2 separate regions of the Homo sapiens genome follow, and region 1 is linked to region 2. The links come from fine-mapping of genetic effects on gene expression. A gene starts in region 2. The other region holds a variant in brackets. All regions are shown on one strand. Distances are between the middles of the regions. Region 1 overlaps FHL5 (four and a half LIM domains 5). Region 2 holds the start of UFL1 (UFM1 specific ligase 1).

Region 1 (10,211 bases), 72 kb after region 2:
AGAACATTCAAGAGCAAAGGTCATGGCAACAGCTTTTTGGGATGCTCAGGGCATTTTGCTTGTTGACTTTCTGGAGGGCCAAAGAACAATAACATCTGTTTATTATCAGAGTGTTTGGAGAAAGTTAGCCAAAGCTTTAGCTGAAAAACGCACAAGAAATCTTCACCAGAGAGTTCTTCACAATGCCCCTGCTCATTTCTCTCATCAAACAAGAGCAATTTTGTGAGAATTTCTATGGAAAATTATTAGGCAACCATTTTATGGTCCCGACTTGGTTCCTTCTGACTTCCTTTTGTTTCCTAATCTTAAAAAAGTCCTTAAAGGGCACCTATTTTTCTTCAGTTACTTATGTAAAAAGACTACATTTACATGGTTAAATTCCCAGGATCCTCAGTTCTTTAGGAATGGATTATATGGCTGATATCATCACTTACAAAAGTGTCAAACTTGATGGAGCTTATGTTGAGAAATAAATTTATATTTTTAATTTTTATCTCTTAATTCCACTTCTATTAACTTTTTGAAGTCTCCTTATATAGAAAAGAGTATTCATAACATATACACAAACTGTAAGAAATAACAAATTGGCTTAACAAAGAAAACATCCCCTTTATATTTGAAACCCGTTGTGCAACATCCCAATTTATTTTAATAACTATGAAAATTAGATAATCTTATATTGCATCCTGAATTTTTTGTTAATCATCACTATGCTTTTTAAAAATAAAAGCACATATTCATAATTCCTAATAATAAACTTTGGCTGTTCTAAACTTTATATAAATGTCATTCTGGTATATTTACTCTCTACAACTTGCTTGTTTACTCAATATTGTAAAGTTCTTCTGCATTAAGGAGGGTACCTGTAAGTCATCTGTTTTTGTGGCCATATGACAATATGTTGTGTGACCACACATCTACTTATTTATCCATTTTTCCCTTGATGGACATTCAGACTTTTTTGCTATGGCTAGTATAAACTCCGTGGCTGTGAGCATTGTTCCACATCATCGCTGAAAGTTTCTCTCAAATTTACACACTTAGGGGTGAAATTGTTGAGTCACATGAAAGGTATATGTTCAATTTTACAATGTAATGAAAAATTGTTTTTCAAAGTGATTTTATCCATTCATTTTTGCATACTTATTTTCAACACGTAAGAGTTCCTGTTATTTCTTTCTTTCTTTTTTTTTGAGACGAAGTCTCACTCTATTGCCCAGGCTGGAGTGCAATGGCACAATCTCGGCTCACTGCAACCTCCACCTCCCAGGTTCAAGCAATTCTCCTGCCTCAGCCTCCCAACTGGCTGGGATTACAGGCATGCACCACCATGCCTGGCTAATTTTGTATTTTCAGTAGAGACGGGGTTTCACCATGTTGGTCAGGCTGGTCCTGACCTCAGGTGATCCACCTGCCTCAACCTCCCAAGTGCTGGGATTACAGGCATCAGCCACTGCGCCTGGCCTCCTGTTATTTCTTTGTCCTCACCAACATTTGATATTGTCAGCATTCTTTTCATATTTTGTGAGTATAAATGCAGTTCATTTTGGTTTGTTGAACAGATCTATTTAAATTTCACTGATTAAGAGTAGGTTGTGCTTTCTTTAAAATAAATATTTTCCAGTTACAAAAGAAAATATTTGCTTATTATGAGTGAATTAAAAACAAGCTAATGGAAAAACAGTCTCCATTAGCTTGTTTTTAATTCACTTATTGATTCACAGGAATGTTTTATATATTTTGTTTTCTAACTCTCTTTCAGTTACTTGTGTGGCAAATATCATCTGTTATATTGTGGCTTGTCTTTTCATTCTTTAAATAGTGTCTCTTAATGAGCAATTCTTTTAAAAAAAAAGTAACAACCTTTTCATTTACAGTTTGTGTTTTTCATATTTTTTAAAAAAATTTTCCTAACATATGATCATAAGATCATAGAAATTTACTTCCATATTTTAAAGACTTGCCTTTCATATTGATGATGGAATTGTTTTGAGTATGGTATGAAGTATGGATTCAATTTAATTTTTCCCATGTAAATAACCAATTATTTCTGTATCATTTCTTAAATAATTATTTCCCCCTCTAAACTACCATTTTTGACATATCACATTTTCATATATGCATAGATCTGATTTGATTCTCTCTTCTCCTCCATTGGTCTTTGGTTTATCCTGTTTCAATACTACACTGCCTTAATGATGACAAGTTCTTATATTGTTTACAACAAATTCTTCCACTATATTAAAGTTTCAGATACATCTTGTTACATTTAAGACAAGTACAATTTCCATTGCTTTTGAATATTGTATTTTTTTAACATTGTATTTCTGATGTGTAGGAATTTTGCTGATATTTTTATATTGACCTTGTATCAAGGAACTTGCTAAATTATCTTTCAGTGGTTGTTAATGAAGTTGAGAACATTTTCATGTTTATTAGCCAGCTGGTTATCCTCCTCTGTGTATCTGTTCAAGTCTTTTGTACTTTTATTGGGTGGTCCATTTTTTTTCTTATTGATTCGTAGGACTTCTTCACATGTTTTGGATATGACTTCTTTGTTAATTAATGAATTGCAATACATTCTTTGGCTCTCTCTTTACTCTTATTTGTGTTTTTTGAGAAACAGAAGTTCTTAAGTTTAATTTAGTCTAGTGTATTAAATTTTCTCTACATGGCCAGCATATTTTCTGGCTTATTTCTGAAACCTTTCACATTACAAGTTTATAATGACATTCTCTTATATTCTCAAAGGATTATTGCTTTGTCCTAACACTGAGATCTATGGTTCACCTGGAAATAATCTTTATATGTCATGTGAAGTAGTAATCTAGTTTCATTCTTTTTCATATGGAAATAAATACAATTGACCCAACACCATTTACTAAAAAGACCATTCCTATTCTTCGTTATTCCTCACTGTCCTTTAGGTCATGTGTTATATATGTATAGACTTGCTTTTGAGCTCTCTATTCTGTTCTGGTGATCTAAGTATTTAATCCTGTGTTTATACCATACCATCCACTATAGTAGCTTTATAATGTCTTGATATCTGACTTAGCAAGTCTTCCAATCTTGTTCTTGTTCAAAGGTGATTACACTATTCCTGGCCCTCTGCATTTCTTTATAAGTTATGGAATTAGCTTGTAAAAAAATAACCTGATGGAATTTTATTTTGCATCTATAGGGCAAATGAAGGGGAAATAATACCTTCACAATAGTAAGTCTTCAAGTCTAAGAGCATGGTATTTTCCTTCCATGTATTTATTTTGGTTTTCTGTTTATTCTTTCAAAGTCTTATAATTTTCTATGTAGAGAGCTCATACATTCTTATTAGGTTTCTCAGGGAATTTAAATATCATAAATGATTTTTTTTCATTTCACTGTTTGTTATTGTTAAATAGGAATACAATTGATTTTTATATATAGACATTTTACTGAGCAACTCTAATAACTAACTTGTAAATTCTAATCAGGTATTATAGAATTTTTTTGATTTTCTCCACAATTAGAACATCAGCAAATAATGAGTTTGTTTCCTTTTAACTCTTGTACTTTTTTCCCTCACCTTACTGCAAAATCTATGGCTTCCAGTATAAAGCTGAATAGAAGTGGTGATTGTGGGTATTCTTTTCCTATTTATAATCCGAGTAAAAGCTATCAACATTTACCATTAAGTATAGTGTTCGCTATAGGTTTTTTTAAACCACATTGAAGAAGTTTCTTTCATTTTTAGTTTGTTAAGAGTTTTTAATCATAAATTGAAGTAAGATTTTATCAAATGCCTTTTCTGCAGCTGCTGAGGTAATTTTACAGCTTTCACTTTTACTTGGTAAAATTATTGAAACACAGTGATTCTCTTGAATTTTAAACTGAACTTGGCATTCCTAAAATGAAATCAACTTGATCATGATATACTAATCTCTTCATATATCACTGGATTTAGTTGCTTGTTATTTGGGTTTGGGTTTTGTATTTATTGTCAGAAGTATTATGGACCTATAGTTTTCCTTTCTCATAATGATTTTAGATTTTGATACCAAAGTGTTAATGAGTTCAAAATTTACCAGAGCATGTTCTCTGTTTGTACTTACTTGATTTGGTTTGTGTGAGATTGCTGTTATTTCTTCTTTAAAGCTTGGCAAAATTCACTGGTAAAGCCACTTTGGCTTTATTTCCCTCTGTATGTAGCCTTTTTAATTACAAATTCAACTTATCTAATAGTTGTCATAATTTTTTATTTCTTCTTGTGTCAATTTTAATAGTTTTATTTATTTTAGATTTTTCCATTTTACCTAAATTTTCTAATTCTTTGACACAGGGTTGTTGTACATAGTCAGATTTACATAGATTCATCTACATGTTTACGGTTTTCATTTTTTCCCTACTCTTTTCCGCACCTGTGATCTCCAATGTGTACTTTTGCCCAAAGAACACTGTTTGGTATTATTTTAACGTGGGTGGATGATTAATAAATTTAGTTTCTGATGGCCTGAAAATGCTTTTACCTTCATTGTCAAAAGATCTTTTACCTGGGCATAGACTTCTAGGTTGGCTGCTAATTTTTTTCAGCAATTTGAATATATCTCTCCATTGTCTAGCTTCCTTTTTTTTCTGTTGAGAAGTAGGTATCCTCAATTTGTTATTAATCTGAAAGTAATATTTTATTATCAGGGGAAATTCAGCCAGATATCGGGGGGAAATTCACCCCCGATATTTCATGTAGGTGCTTTTCTATTTTCCCTAAGTGTCAGCCAGTTTGAGAAATAAAGGGACAGAGAACAAAAGAGAGAAATTTTAAAGCTGGGCATCTGGGGGACACATCACATGTCGATAGGTTCCGTGATGTCCCCTGAGCTGTAAAACCAGCAAGTTTTTATTAGGGATTTTCAATGGGGAGGGAGTGTACGAATAGGGTGTGGGTCACAGAGATCAGGTACTTCACAAG[A/G]TAATAGAATATCACAAGGCAAATGGAGGCAGGGCGAGATCACAGGACCATAGGACCGGGGCAAAATTAAAATTGCTAATGAAGTTTCGGGCACCACTGTCATTGATAACATCTTATCAGGAGACAGGGTTTGAGAGCAACCTGTCTGACCAAAATTTATTAGGTGGGAATTTTCTCGTCCTAATAAGCCTGGGAGCACTATGGGAGACTGGGGCTTATTTCATCCCTACAGTCTTGACCATAGAAGATGGCCACACCCAAGGGGGCCATTGTAGAGGCCCACCCTCAGGGGCACATTCTCTTTCTCAGGGATGTTCCTTGCTGAGAAAAAGAATTCAGTGATACTTCTCCCATTTGCTTTTGAAAGAAGAGAAATACGGCTCTGTTCCGCCCAGCTCACTGGCGGTCAGAGTTTAAGGTTATCTCTCTTATTCCCTTGAACATTGCTGTTATCCTGTTCTTATTTCAAGGTGCCCAGATTTCATATTGTTCAAACACACATGCTCTACAATTTGTGCAGTTAATGCAATCATCACAGGGTCCTGAGGCAACATACATCCTCCTCAGCTTACGAGATGACAGGATTAAGAGATTAAAGTGAAAACAGGCATAGGAAATCACAGGGGTATTGACTGGGGAAGTGGTAAGTGTCCAAGAAATCTTCACAATTTATGTTTAGAGATTGCAGTAAAGACAGGCATAAGAAATTATAAAAGTATTAATTTGGGGATCTAATAAATGTCCATGAAATCTTCACAATTTATGTTCTTCCACCATGGCTTCAGCCAGTCCCTCCGTTCAGGGTCCCTGACTTCCCGCAACATTTTATAATCTACTTTTGATATGTTATTTGTCTTTCGTTTTTAGTAGTTGTACCCTGATGTGTCCAAGTGTGTTTTTCAGGTCAGTTGAGGTTCATGTTTTCTTGGTTTTTAAAATTTGGGGCATGTATTTTGTCAGTTTTGGAAGATGGGCCATTGTTTCTTCAAATACAACTTGTATATTTTTCTCTTTTCTCATTCTCATTCTATCATCTATGTTTCTTACTTTCTTAATTGTACTTTTTATACCTTTTATCATCATGCTTAATTTTATTTTCTATTTTATCATCTTTTTCATTTCATACAATCTTTTCTAAAATTTCCCATTATGTCCCTAATTTAAATCATTGTATATTTCTGTACTATAATTTACATTTCATTCTTTTTCATTGTTTTTAATTCTCTGCAAAATTTTTGCTCCTTATTTTATTTACCCCCTTGAACATATTAAGGATAGTTTTATGTTCTGTCTTATAACTCCAAAATCTATGGCTTCCTGCATGTATGTTTCTATTCTTTATATTCCCTTGTCTTCTTCTGAACATGGTCATTTTTGTTTAGTGCTAGACATTGGTGTAGAAGTAATTGAGGCCTAAGATGATGTTTTCTTCCTTCAGACAGGATGTGTATTTATTCTGGTGTTCACCTAGGGATACCAGAATTCCAAGGTTATCTTAATATAATTTTAGAAACTGAGGTAATTCAAAGCTGGGCTTCCATCTCTGAAATACTAGTTTACTTCTAATTTACGTTACTCCAAGGGCATAGCTCTTTGGAAATATCACCTACACAATGATAAGCTTACCAGGCCTGCTACATGGAAGGTCCATTGACCTCAATCTTTGTCCCCTTAGCCTTTCTAGGCTGTCAGAAGTGCCATACAGCTTCTCAGACTATTCATTTTATCTTTTTGGATGTACATATTCTTCTGTGGAAAGCAAATACCAAGCTCATCTACGCTTTTCTCCTTCCTTTGGACTTTGCCTATTCTTCACTGTAATATTAATTCTCTGATGCCTCCAAGCTACACTTTTTAAGTACACTTTTTAAGTACTAGCTTCTCTAGTGGTTCACAGCAGCCTCATGGTTTGAATTATACAGAGTACCATTATTGGACTGGAAGTCTTTCAACAATTTTATTTTGGGGAAAAATTATTTCTATTATCTTCATTTAGTGAATTTTCTCTTTATGCATTAGTTTGTTTCATTTCAAGGTTGCTGATTTTTACTTTTGCTTTTTTCAGTCTGCTGATAATCTTATCCATTGAATTCTCTATTACAAATATTTTTAAACATAAGCCCCCACAGGGACTTTATTATACTTATGTTAAATATTTGGAAGGAAATGAACAGAATGAGTGAATGTATAAATGATTTCAGCAGAAAAATGAAAGAACTGGAAAAGGATCCAATAAATATTAGAATTTATATATATATATATATATATATATATATATATATATATATATATATGTATGTATGTATTTACTTCTTGAGGTGTCTTATAATTTTTTGCCTGCCAAACATTGGAACAAAATACACATGTACAATTTTTGTTTCATTTTGTTTTACCCCCAGAGGATGCACTCCTTTCTTGTCACATGGCTAGGTCAAGGGGCAGAACTTTTAGTTTCTGTCAAGTGTTGTGCTGAGTTACAGTTAACAAAAATATTAAATTAGGCCGACCTCTGGGTTCAAATAGTATTAAAGAAAACTATATTTCCCTTTCATCTAATCTTTGGTTGAAGCTGACAAGAATTTGTTGGGATTTGAACTCAGATTGGTTGCAGATGTTGACAGTTACTTTTGGATCATCTTTGGAATATTTTGGTTTTCAACCAAGAAAGTTTAACCACTCATTTGGTTTGATTTGGGTTTAAAATGTATCATATATCTTCTTCTTTTGTGATGTCTCAGTTTTCTAGTTTTCTTTTTCCTACGTACTTTCTATGAAATAATTTTGTTTTACTTATTTCTATTTCTATGTTTAGAGTTTTCCATTAAAATTTAACAAATCTAATGACTTATTATTAAAATTTTAACATGAGAATGCTTAATCTTAATGTAATTCAGTTAATGTATTCTTTTCCAGCAATACAAGGATTAACAATCAACTCTTTCCTCACTTAAATGCTATTTTCCCCAGTACATTAGTATTATTATGTGTTTTTGAACCCCACAAATTATTATTGTTTTTTCATACAGTCAATGTTTATTTTTGTGTAACTGCATGTTAGTCGAGGTCTTTGCTCCTTATTCTTTCTTTTTGTCTTCAGTTTTCCTAAACCTTCCGTTAGAGAGTTTCCTTTTTTTCTTTCTTTTTTTTCAAACCACATTCTTTAGAATTCCCTTCAGTGAAGGTTTTTTGGTAGTAAACATAGCTTTTGTCAACTTAAATATGTTTTTATGTCATCCTATTCTTTAAATTAAGCTTCACTGAGTATACAGGTCTAGAGTTTACTTATTTTCTCTTAGCATTATTTCAGTTTCTTCTGGTTTCTATTGTTGCTGTTTAGAAGTTATCTGCATATCTAATTGTTGGTGTTTTAGACATTTTTTTTTCTCTTTGAATGTCTTTAAGATCATCTTTGTCTCTGGAATATGACATCTTTACTATGATGTGTTTGTTTTTATGATGCCTGAAATTTGTTTTACTTTCTGCATCTGTATATTAATGTCATTAATTCTTGGAAATTCAATTCTATCTCCAACCTTTGCATATTTCTCATTTTCTCTATTATCTTCTTTTGAAATTCTGTAAAGACTTAGGTCAAATTCTTTTACTCTATCTTCTACTTTCTTTTTAACTGATATATTTTCTATCTCTTTTTCTTTCTTCATTGTATTTTATAGTATATCTTTAGTTCTATTTCCAAGTTTATTAATTTTCCCTTCAACTGATTCTAATCTGCATTTTAATCTGTTTTAATTTTAATGATAAGTTTTTATCTCTTTTATTTCTATCAGTTCTGTTGCAAATCTGCCTAGTCATTTTTATTCTCCTGAATTTTTCTATATAATGCTCTCTGTTATGTCTTTAAATATGTTAAACATTATTTTCCATTTTGTATCTGTTATTTCTCATGTGAAATTGTTTTGTTGGTGATCCAAGTATTTTCTTTGCTGGATTTTTACTTATACTGCTTGTTTTCATTGCTTATTCTTATTTTAAATATTTTAATTGTGAATTCATGCTCAATGAAAATTTATATGTATGATTTTTTTTAGGCCTAGGATGATGGGACATTCTTTCATAGAGGATTTTCTTGTGTTTCATTTTAAACTAAGCCTTTTAAACTAAAACCTAAGAGTTTTAGACCTTACAGTTAGTATAAGTTCAGGCTGTAAATACTTGGATAACAAGGTCATCATGGCTCAGAAGACATCCTCAGGACAAATGGCTCCTTTAGAGAGTGTTAACCTTTCTAGTTTCCTGCTTTCTTTTTAGTTTTAGCCTCTGAGATTTTCCCTTACTTTCTTGCCAGTTCGGCAACACATTTTATTTTGTTCGTTTTTTATTCCTTAGGCGTGTGTTTTTGAACATGCAATTTTCTAAGCTGTCAGCAATGAGCATCTTGTCACTCACATTTTAACTCTGAAATCTGACATCAGACAATTTAGTGTCTCCAAACTATTCTTTTGAAGACATCATTTACCTTCTTGTTGACACTTTCCTTAATTGTTATTAATATATATTCTCTTCTTGTAGTTCTCATTTCTTTTGTCTTTGAAAACACTGTGACCTTCACGATATCTGCTTCATCTCTTTCCCATCACATAACATGCATTTATCCGTGAGTTTGTATTTTATCTTTTTTTTTCACTTTTCTACACTAGGGTTTCTTTGATGGTCTCATTCAGTCTCATAACTTCAGTTACCATTGTAGCTCCTCAACTACCAATTAGCTCATCCAGGAAAATAGTCTAAACTTCTTAATCTAACATGACATTTTGATGCCTAGTATTTTGAACATACAGCTTGATGGCTATCTAGTTTAGTTCCTCAAATTCAATATAACTAAACCTGAGTTAATCTTGTCTTCCAACTAGTTTCTCTTCCTGTACTCCCGTCTTCTATTAGTGGCATACTAATTCTACCAGGAACCGTATATGAAATTTCAGAATGACTCTCTCTCTCTCTCCCAGATGCATTCACTTTTTAAGTCCTACTGCATCTTGCTCCCACACATGATCTCAATACTCTTTTCTAAATCAAGCCATCATTACCTCCAACATGAATACCCCAAATGCTTCCATCCTTTCCTCATTTCCACTTCATACTCACCCTTAAACAAGACTCAGTCTTTGGCTTCTCAGAATTCCAAGACTTCATACATGGTTGTATTCTTCTATCACTTGATCTCACAGTCTCTGCAACTCTCTCTTTATATATATAATATATACCAATATAATTTAATATGTATACATGTGTTTAACATTATACA
Region 2 (9,808 bases):
ATTGACACTGGCAAACTAGAGTTCAACAACTTTATTCTGATTGGGCAGCCAAAATATTAAGAGGTCTGGCAATCTTGTGAGGAGATATAAATTGAAGTATCTGGGATGCTTAACTTAAAAAAAGAAAACAGGAGGGACATACTTCAGATATTTGGAGGGCTGTCATAGGAAAGATATATTACAGTCAGTCTGTTTATCACTTAAGGAAACCATATGGAAGCTACAGGGAAACAGACCTTGCTTTAGCAGTACAAGGAAGAAATTTCTAAGAGTTACATCTGTCCAAAAACAGATTCATTTACCTTGCTAAAAAGGGAACACTTCATCACCTTAAGGATCCAAGCAAAACTAAATAATCTGCCAGGGGCTTTGCAAAGAAATTATTGCTGTGTTAGGTAGAACACTAACATAGATATCTTGAAGAGCCTTTCTGGGTTTATTACGCTATTTTTTCTATAGCCTCGGAGGGTCTTGCTGCCTCCATCTTCAACAGTACCATAACATTTCTTTTCATTAATGTATCTTCTTCCAATTTAATACCTGATGAGGTCTTTGTTCTAAGTCCCATTGTTCTTAGTTGCTAACGAGGTAGTCCTTCTATGACAGTTAATTTTATGTGTCAGTTTGACTGGGCTAAAGGATGCCCAAATATCTGGTAAAACATTATTTCTGGGTATGTCTGTGAAGGTGTTTACAGAAGAGACTTGTATCTGAATTGGTAGACTGAGTAAAAAAGACGCTCTCACCCATTTGGGTAGGCATTATACCATCCCTTGAGGGCTTGAATGAAACAAAGAGGCAGAGAACAGTGAATTAGCTTTCTGCTTGAGCTGAACAGCCATCTTCTCCTCCTCTCGGACATCAGCACTCCTGGTTCACAGACCTTCAAACTCAGACTGAACTACACCACCAACTTCTATGGTTCTCCAGCTTGCAGATCATGGGACTTCTCAGCCTCCATAATCACATGGGCCAATTACTATAATCTCTCTGTTACTCTGGAGAATGCTGACTGTTCTGTGAAAGGGCCACCATATATGCAAAGTTCCCCCCAAATGCCAGAGGAGCTGAGAAATCAAAGAATGAGGTAGAAAAATCCAGTTTGTCAGTGATGGAGGTAACTTACAGACGGAAGTGTGGTCTTGGGCAGCAGCAAGACAGGTAGATCTCTAAACCTGTTACCTCCCAACCCAGAGCTTATATACTACAGTGAAAGGGTATAAGTGCTCTCTATGCAAGATAATTAAAGGCAATCCTCCAGAACAGGCAACAATGCTATATATTCATCATAGTCTGTAAACTGTGGGATAACATCAAGATTGACATGTTCTTTCTCTAGGGACAGTAAATAAAGTAGGAATCAGGAGGCATTCATGGGACTGAGGATACTCAAAAATCATTATAGCAGATTAGCATTTAAGGTGGAGTCACTTTTGTCTCCACACTAATATGGCTTCTTTATGCTCTTACAATCTGACTTCTATTGCAACCATGGCAGGAAAAAAAGAAACAATCCCCTGTTAAAAGTCACAGCCTGGCTGGGCACGATGGCTCACACCTGTAAAATCAGAACTTAAGGAGGCCAAGGTGGGAGAATCACTTGAGGCCAGGAGTTTGAAACCAGCCTGGGCAACAGAGCAAGATCTCATCTCTATTTTTAAAAATAAATAAATAAATAAATAAAGTAAAAGGCATAGCCTTTTTGCTGTAATAGCCAGTGGTTCTGCATTATTTTCCTTGTCCTTAACTCTGTAGAGTTATTGTTAACTATCCTTCGTCTATAATTTTTTGCTGCTCTAATTACTTTCCTCTTTTTCAGTGGTCTTTTTCCTCTCCTTCTACTCATGAATCATAGTGTTTTCCTAAGGCACTAATATTTGCTATGTTTGGATGTTCACTACCATTTTTGATTATGGGATTAAAATAATTTTTAAATCCTTCATTACAATAGGATAATGTCAGTGACACAATTAACACTATGTCTTGGTAATTTCCCTATGTGACAAACAGTGAATACTGATTTGCTTGACAATACCCAATTGTAGTTACTTAGTTTTATTTTCCTAGTTGAACCAGGAAAAGTATTTCAAAGTTTACAGTTGTATTTTCTTGACAGACAAGGAAAAAATGCTTCAAATTTTATTTTTTTAAAATTTATCATGGAGGAACTTTACCAGATCACACTTGATATGCTATCAGGGTAGCCATCAATTCAAATTATAAATGTGGCAATATTTTATTGCCCTTCATATTTTAAAGTGAGTCTAAGGATAGTGTCACAAATCATGTACAGAGTGCAGCTGAAGACACCATCAATCCTCCCCCATCATCTACATATCAAAATTCAACTTAAGTTTGTAGACACAAACACAACTATTACAATATTTTGTAGAGAATGGAAATTCTATTTCCCAAGTCTACACAAAGCTTGCTCTTCAAAAGAATCTCTCATCTGTTATTAAATAGCCACTTGGGATTCTTACCATTATTCTAGGCATGCACTGTATTGATTAAAGCTCTACTTAATATCAGATATCAGCCAACACTGAAATATCCTCCATTCAAATGCTTATTACCCATTCAAAATAACTGAAAATGTAGTTAGAGTATATGGTTGCTAGGTGGAGATATTTAAGTTATATGATCTCAGAGTCTGAACAAATGTGCATCCCATCAAAGGTCTAGACCAGAGCTGTACAATAAAACTTTCTGTGAAGACGAAGATGTTTTTCTAAACTATCCCATATGATAGCCATGAGGCACATGTGACTACTGAGAATCTGAAATGTGGCTAGTGCAACTGAAGGACCACATTATCAATTGTATTTAATCTTAATTAATTTAAATGTAAATAGCTTTATATGGCTATTGAGTACCATACTGGACGAAACAAGCCTAGTCTCTAGAAAATATAACCATGAATTATTCTTATGGTTTCCTTTCTTAGGAATAAATGTAAATGTTAGTAATATTAACATAGTACTATTTTACCAAAGTATAATGCTGCACCAAAACATTTACACTGACTTACTCACATAAAGGACATTTATAGAATACAGCAGGTACTATGTACTAGTTGTCACGCTAAGTGCTGAGGAACTTTCAGGAGTTCCTTTAGGAGCTCAGGATATTGAGAGATGCAGTAAATAAGTTAATAAACTACAATATAACTTTTCTTGCTATTAGAGGCATCTAAATAAAGAAATGTGGAAACACAACATATACAATAACTGTAGGAGTTTAAAAGGTTTCATTGAAGACTTTAAAGCTGGGATACCATGAAGAAATATGTTACAAAATAATATGCGGGGATGAGGGTCGGGGGCGTGGGGAAGTGGACAGGCAATCCAGTAAAGACATGGGGTCCTGAAAGGGCTTGGCAAGGCTAGGATACAGCAGACTATTCTCCATGTGTTGTGCAGCGGCAGAGATGTGCAGCTCCAGTCTGACTGTGAGAGTCTTACATAGGAAGCAAGAAGTTTGGCTGCCAAGTGATCACATACTGCCCTATACTTCCCCTATTGTTAGAATTTCCACACTTTTATTGTAAGTACTTATCTTTTTAATCTGCTTCATTAGATTTCAAAATTGTTACGGCCAGACCATGTCTTCCTTATCCACCACTGTGCTCCATGGCATCTGATAGAGAATTAATAAATATGTGTTTTAGGAATGAATGTTTCTGCTTGTTTTGAAGCTTGATGCTCTCTGGAACCACACTACCTACCACCTTCCAAACTACCTCTTTGACTTCTGGTGTTTTCCCTCTTGGTCCATAATCAGGTAGCCATTGTCATTTTCTAGCAGTACTTAGTGGAAGGTTTTATGACTGAGTTCCTGTCTTTTAAATAAAGCTGGGGAATTTAATAGACAATTACGTTTATGGCATTGGATTTGAGTTGCCCACAGTAATGTACTTAGATGGAAAAGAAATTGAAATAGCTCCCCTTTACCAACTCTATCAATATATGATTAAAAGGAATATTTTTATTTTTTAGTTTTTAATTTTTGTAGGTACATAGTAGGTGTATATATTTATGGAGTACATGAAATATTTTGATGCAGGCATACAGCATGTAATTATCACATCAGGGTAAATGTGGTATCCATTACCTCAAGCATTTCCTTTGTGTTACAAACAATCCACTTGTACTTTGTTTTTTAAAATGTACAATTGAATTATTATTGACTGTACTTCCGGAAAGGTGTCCCAATCCAGACCCCAAGAGAAGGTTTTTGGATTTCATACAAGAAAGAATTGAAAGCAAATCCATAAAGTGAAGCAAGTTTATAAAGAAAGCAAAGGAAAAAAAAAATGGCTATTCCATAGGCAGAGCAACGGCTTGAGCTGCTGGCCTAAGGATACCTATAGTTATTTCTTGATTACAGCTAAACAAGGGGTGGATTATTCACAAGTTTTCCAAGGAAAGGTGTAGGCAATTCCCAGGGCTGAGAGTTCCTCCCCATTTTAGACCCATATAAGGTAACTTCCAGACGTTGCCATGGCATCTGTACACTGTCATGGCACTGGTGGGGGTGTCTTTTAACATGATAATGAATTATAATTAGCATATAATGAGCAGTGAAGACGACCAGAGGTCACTGTATTCATCATCTTGGTTTCTGGTGGGTTTTGGTTGGCTTCACTACTGCAACCTGTTTTATCGGCAAGGTCTTTATGACTTGTTTTTCCTGCCTGTGGACCTTCTATCTCACTCTGTGACTAACCTCCTGGGAATGCAGCCCAGTAGGTTTCAGCCTTATTTTACCCAGCCCCTATTCAAGATGGAGTTGCTCTAGTTCAAACGCCTCTGACAACTAGTCACCCTGCTGTGCTATCAAATACTTGATATTATTCATTCTTTCTAACTGGAATAATATTTTTTAAATAGTAAAGAGTGAGATACATGAACTCCAAATATCTGAGACAGGTCACAATCAACTCAGAAAGTTTATTTAGCCAAAGTTAAGAACTTGCATCCATGACATGGCACAGATCCTGACAACATGCGCCCAAGGTGGCTGGGGCACAGCTTGGTTTTACACATTTTAGGGAGACATGGGGCAGCAATCAATATATGTAAGATAAACATTGGTCTGATCTGGAAAAGCGGGGCAACTCCAAGTGGGGAGGAAGTTCCAAGTCATAGGTAGATAACAGACAGTTGCATTCTCTTATGAGCCTCTCCAAATGAGGCAATCAGACATGCATTTATCTCAGTGAGCAGAGGGGTGACTTTGAATAGAATGGGAGGCAGGATTCCCTAAGCAGTTCCCAGTATGACTTTTCCCTTTAGCTTAGTGATTTGGGGGTCCCATGATTTATTTTCAATTCATAAGATATAAAAAAGATATAAAAAAGAAAGGTACACCTGAGTAAATATCTACTCAACAGGGAAGCAGGATACATGTTCTCTTTGCTTTCCCTGTTTCCTTGATAGCCATGCACCTTATGTTTATATTCCTCATTATTTGATGAAGTTAATCATTGCAATAAGAGAAATACGAAAGACTCTAGAACTCTAGACACGAAAGCAATTATACAGCCTTTATGACACGCAAATTTATTCACTCTGTAAAAAAAAAGTAATTACTTTCGGTAGGGTCTCCCATGTATCTTCCAAAAGGCAGACTGCTCTGGGTGCATGTAAAAATTAACACGATACCCTATACAAAAGGGAATGCTCAGAGTTAACAGCTAGAGAAGAGAGGCGCCAATCTTAGACACAGGCTTATTCCTCCGCACCCTCCCCCAAAACAAATGGAGGACAGAAGAAAAAAGAAAAGTAGTTAATACAACTATTACTCTACGGAAATATTAGGGGTAGCGCAAACAAAGTTCTGACACTAAACTTTACTGAGCCCTGCATCCTGCCCACGACCCCCCCAGAAACACCTACGCACCACTCTCCTAGCCGCCGCAGCCCCGCCAGTCTCGCCGGGAGGAACCCCCAGCGCCGCGGTACAACCACGGCACTTCCGCCCGCCCCCCGCGCCTCGGGCGCAAGCGTTTGGTGTGTCTGCGTCGGGGGCGGAGCCTCTTGTCCCTCTGCGCGGCCCGTTCCGCCTCTCTTCTCCCACCGCCTGTCGGCTGACGTGTCTGCAGTTCCTCCGCGTCTACTGCGAGTCAGGCCGTGATGGCGGACGCCTGGGAAGAGATTAGGCGGTTGGCGGCCGACTTCCAGCGGGCGCAGTTCGCCGAGGCCACGCAGAGGTGCCCGACCCTCCCTCTCCTTTGTGGAGCCCAAATTAGGCCGTGGGCGGACACGCCTGTATCTGGGACTTTAGACCCGCGGCCCTGCATCCCGGGTCTTCTCGCTGCTTGTCACCATTCTCTCCTCCTCCCTCTGTCCCGAGCCTGGATCGCAGTTCCAAGTCCAAGGCTCGGCGGGAAAGTCCTCAGCCTAGGACGCCCTGGAGCCCCCCAGCCCAGCTGCAGCGAAATGCTGGCGCGCCCCGCCCCACCATGGACGGGGCCGGTGATTTCGAGCTGCCTTTATTGAGCATTTCTTTGACCCTCCCTCACCCACCAACCACCAAATCACTGTGACATCTTGGCTATTATACACTTCCTGATCTAGAATGAGCTCGAAAGGAGAGGCTAACCCCCGCCCCCAGTACAGTACTTGGCAAATAGTATGTTGATCCTTAAAACTTCTTGCCCTTTTATCTCTCGTAACAGACCTAGGGCTAGACCCCTGACCCCATCTGTTATTCAGGGCACTGACATTTTCTACAAGCCCACTAACCTTTGGAGGATGTGTCCAGAGGAGCCTAACTCTGCTTTTTAAAAATAACGCTAATAGAAGCCTTTCTATTCTTTGACTACTTCCTACCTGCGATGTTTTATTCCTTTTGAGCCGGAAGACAGCAATCCCCTTATGCTGTATTTTCTACCACTGATAGCAAACTCGTAACTGCATGGGTAACTAACGTGGGTAAAAGTTATGGTTTCACTAGGCCACATCCCCTGCCTGCTTGCAGACCATGTGTGTAAGTGAGGCAATTATGCACTTAATTTAAAAGAAAATTCTGATTAAACTGGAAATTAGGGCATTTTTTGTTTTGTTTTGTTTTGTTTTTTCTTTTTTCCTACCTAAATAAATGTCTTCAATTTTCCCTTCAGATTTGAAGATTGGAAGCAGGCCTGTAAGAGACAACAGACTTGAAATTTGTGATGGGATGATGTGTACCAATTAAATAAATGATTTAAGCATATGTAAACCTACTTACTCTGAAAGGTTTTTTTTTAACTTATTGAATCAGTTAGTGAAAAATACAGATATTGTGATGTAGAAGTTAGTGACTAAACAAACTTTTTAAAAGCCTGTTTTCATACATTGTATTAATTTTATTGAGCGCCAATGTCTCAAGTGGACTTTTGAAACAACTTTTTTTCTTTCCCTCAGGTTGTCCGAGCGGAACTGCATTGAGATTGTTAATAAATTGATTGCTCAGAAACAGCTAGAAGTAGTTCATACACTCGATGGAAAGGAATATATTACTCCAGCCCAAATTAGTAAAGAAATGAGAGATGAGCTACATGTCCGAGGTGGTAGGTAATTCTTTAGTGTTTTTTTTTTTCTTGGATTTTTGGAAGGGGCAAAACAAACAAACAAAACCCGTAAACATGTAATTGCATACTAAATTATAGATTGTAAGATATCGTTTTCAATTGTTAATTTGATAATCAGGCTTAATATTTTTACTGGGTTCATGCAAACATGGTCATATAATTTAAATGAACTCAAATGTTGTCACTTAAAATATTTTATCATTTTGAGTTATGTGTACTATACATGAATTAATTGTTTCTTTTTACAATTCATTAATTTATTGCATGACTCAGGGAAGGGTATTCAGCTGCCTTTTATTAGGTGGTAATTGTGAAGGGGGACAGTATCTTACAGGATTATAGATTTTTGAAAATCAAGGCTGTATTTCTTTTTAAGGCTTACTTGTACTTACAAATTAGGTAACTCAATCCAGTGTGGTGCTACACCAATCATATTGTATGAAATGCTGTTAAAAACACGCACAAAGTTGGTTTCCTTTGTCTTCTTAAAATTTGAACAGACTACCAAGCATATTTGAATACTATTTGATTAAAATAGAAGCAATTATGAAAGCCTCTCTTCATATTATCAGAGTGTAACATTGGTCTTTGTCTTTTTTTATTTATCTATTTTCCTTCATAGTACCTTTAAAATATGAGCTATAATTTGAATTACTTAACAGATTTTCTTATGCTGATATGTAGAAGCCTACCTTTTAGTATCAAATAATTGAAAAAAAGTTCATCTTAATTTAGTTGTCAATATCTCTTTGATCACAGTAGATAAATTCTGAATTGTGAAGGGAAATGAATACCCTTCATAGATAGAGCCAATTTGTGTGCCAGTTGGTGCTCATAATTGGCCTGATGTTATTTAAAAAAAAAAAAAAAATTGAAAGTAAGTTATTGCTTATGGCTTCAGCCATGAAGACTTAGCCATCAGCTAATGGTGTGTATTTGAAGACATTGATTATTCTGGCTCTCTGTTCTATGCAGGACTTTGACCAAAACTTAAATGTTAGAATTTATAGCTTTGGGTTGGTATGTACGCATAGATCATTTAAAATAAATGAATGTCTTTTCTTCAAAGGTCGAGTAAACATTGTTGATCTACAACAGGTAGGTTTTAAATTTATAAAATTTTTGCTTTACTTTCTCAATTTTTTGATACTGTGAATTTGTTCAAGTATTCACTAATGCTGGTATCATATTTTGTGTAGTGTTTATAAAGAAATAGTTATATAAGCCTCGCTGATACACTGAATTGATTTAACAAGTTCTGATACATTAAAATGATTTAATAAATTCGGATTTATTGAAATGATTTAATAAGTTGGCCTTATTAAAGAGTTGGCCAACTCTTCCCTAGTTGGCTTTCTTATTCTTAACTTTTTACCAAATGAACTCATAGTTATTTTATGTAAGTATAGAGTTTATGTCATTTTGGGAGAAAAGTCACCAGTTTCATGTTTATATGTTTTTAGTATATGAAAGTAATAGAGAAACATTTTTAAAAGTAGAAGCTATTTTCAAAATATACAAATATATATGTCATTACCAAGGTACACTATAAACAAGAAGCCAGCGAATTTTCTGTAAAATGCTATCTGTTATATGAATATGTAATTTACTGCTTTATATAAACTTACTAGCAAGTGACAGTTTAATTCTTCAGAACTGAAAATAACTAAGCAATACACCTCTAATTTTTTATTTGGCCAATGCTTTTCGTATTATTTCAGATTGATTCAAAATTTAAGAATAAGCAATTTCTTTCTTTCTTTTTTTTTTTTTGAGATGGGAGTCTCCCTATGTTGCCCAGGCTGGTCTCAAACTCTTGAACTGAAGGGATCCTCCCGCCTCATCCTCCCAAAGTGCTGGAATCCAGGCATGAGCCACCATGCCTGGCCGGCAATTTCTTTAAAAATATAGTTCTAAGTATATAATTTCAAGCTTAAGAAACAATACAAACTAATCATTAATAGATTTTGTATTTGTTTTCCAGGTAATTAATGTGGACCTGATTCATATTGAAAATAGAATTGGTGACATTATTAAATCAGAAAAGCATGTTCAGTTAGTGTTGGGACAACTGATAGATGAGTAAGTACAATAAAGTACAAATTTAAGAGCACTTTGTTTATTTTCTTTCTTTTTTTTATAGTGTTTAAATTTAGGCCAATTATGGCCAGTTAGACATTTCATTTATAACTCTTACAGTGTTGATTTTCATGATAAGGTTTATTTCACTTA

Evidence for each region.
Region 1: its variant is fine-mapped to the expression of UFL1 in whole blood (INTERVAL, PIP 0.95).

What each region holds. Positions count from the first base shown.
Region 1 is chr6:96,587,036-96,597,246 of GRCh38, forward strand. All of the region lies in intron 1 of FHL5 (four and a half LIM domains 5), which reads left to right. Among named protein-coding and RNA genes, the nearest start is that of FHL5, 29 kb to the left of the region's middle. The variant A/G (reference allele first, on the strand shown) is at 4,946.
Region 2 is chr6:96,515,737-96,525,544 of GRCh38, forward strand. It overlaps UFL1 (UFM1 specific ligase 1), which reads left to right and starts at 6,070. Exons shown (of 19, transcript NM_015323.5): 1 at 6,070-6,214; 2 at 7,410-7,555; 3 at 8,646-8,674; 4 at 9,561-9,658. The coding sequence starts at 6,138. UFL1-AS1 (UFL1 antisense RNA 1) reads right to left here and starts at 5,978. Exons shown (of 4, transcript XR_007059687.1): 1 at 1-5,978. RefSeq lists enhancers at 3,913-4,786, 4,787-5,658, 5,659-6,530, 5,675-5,864, 6,531-7,402.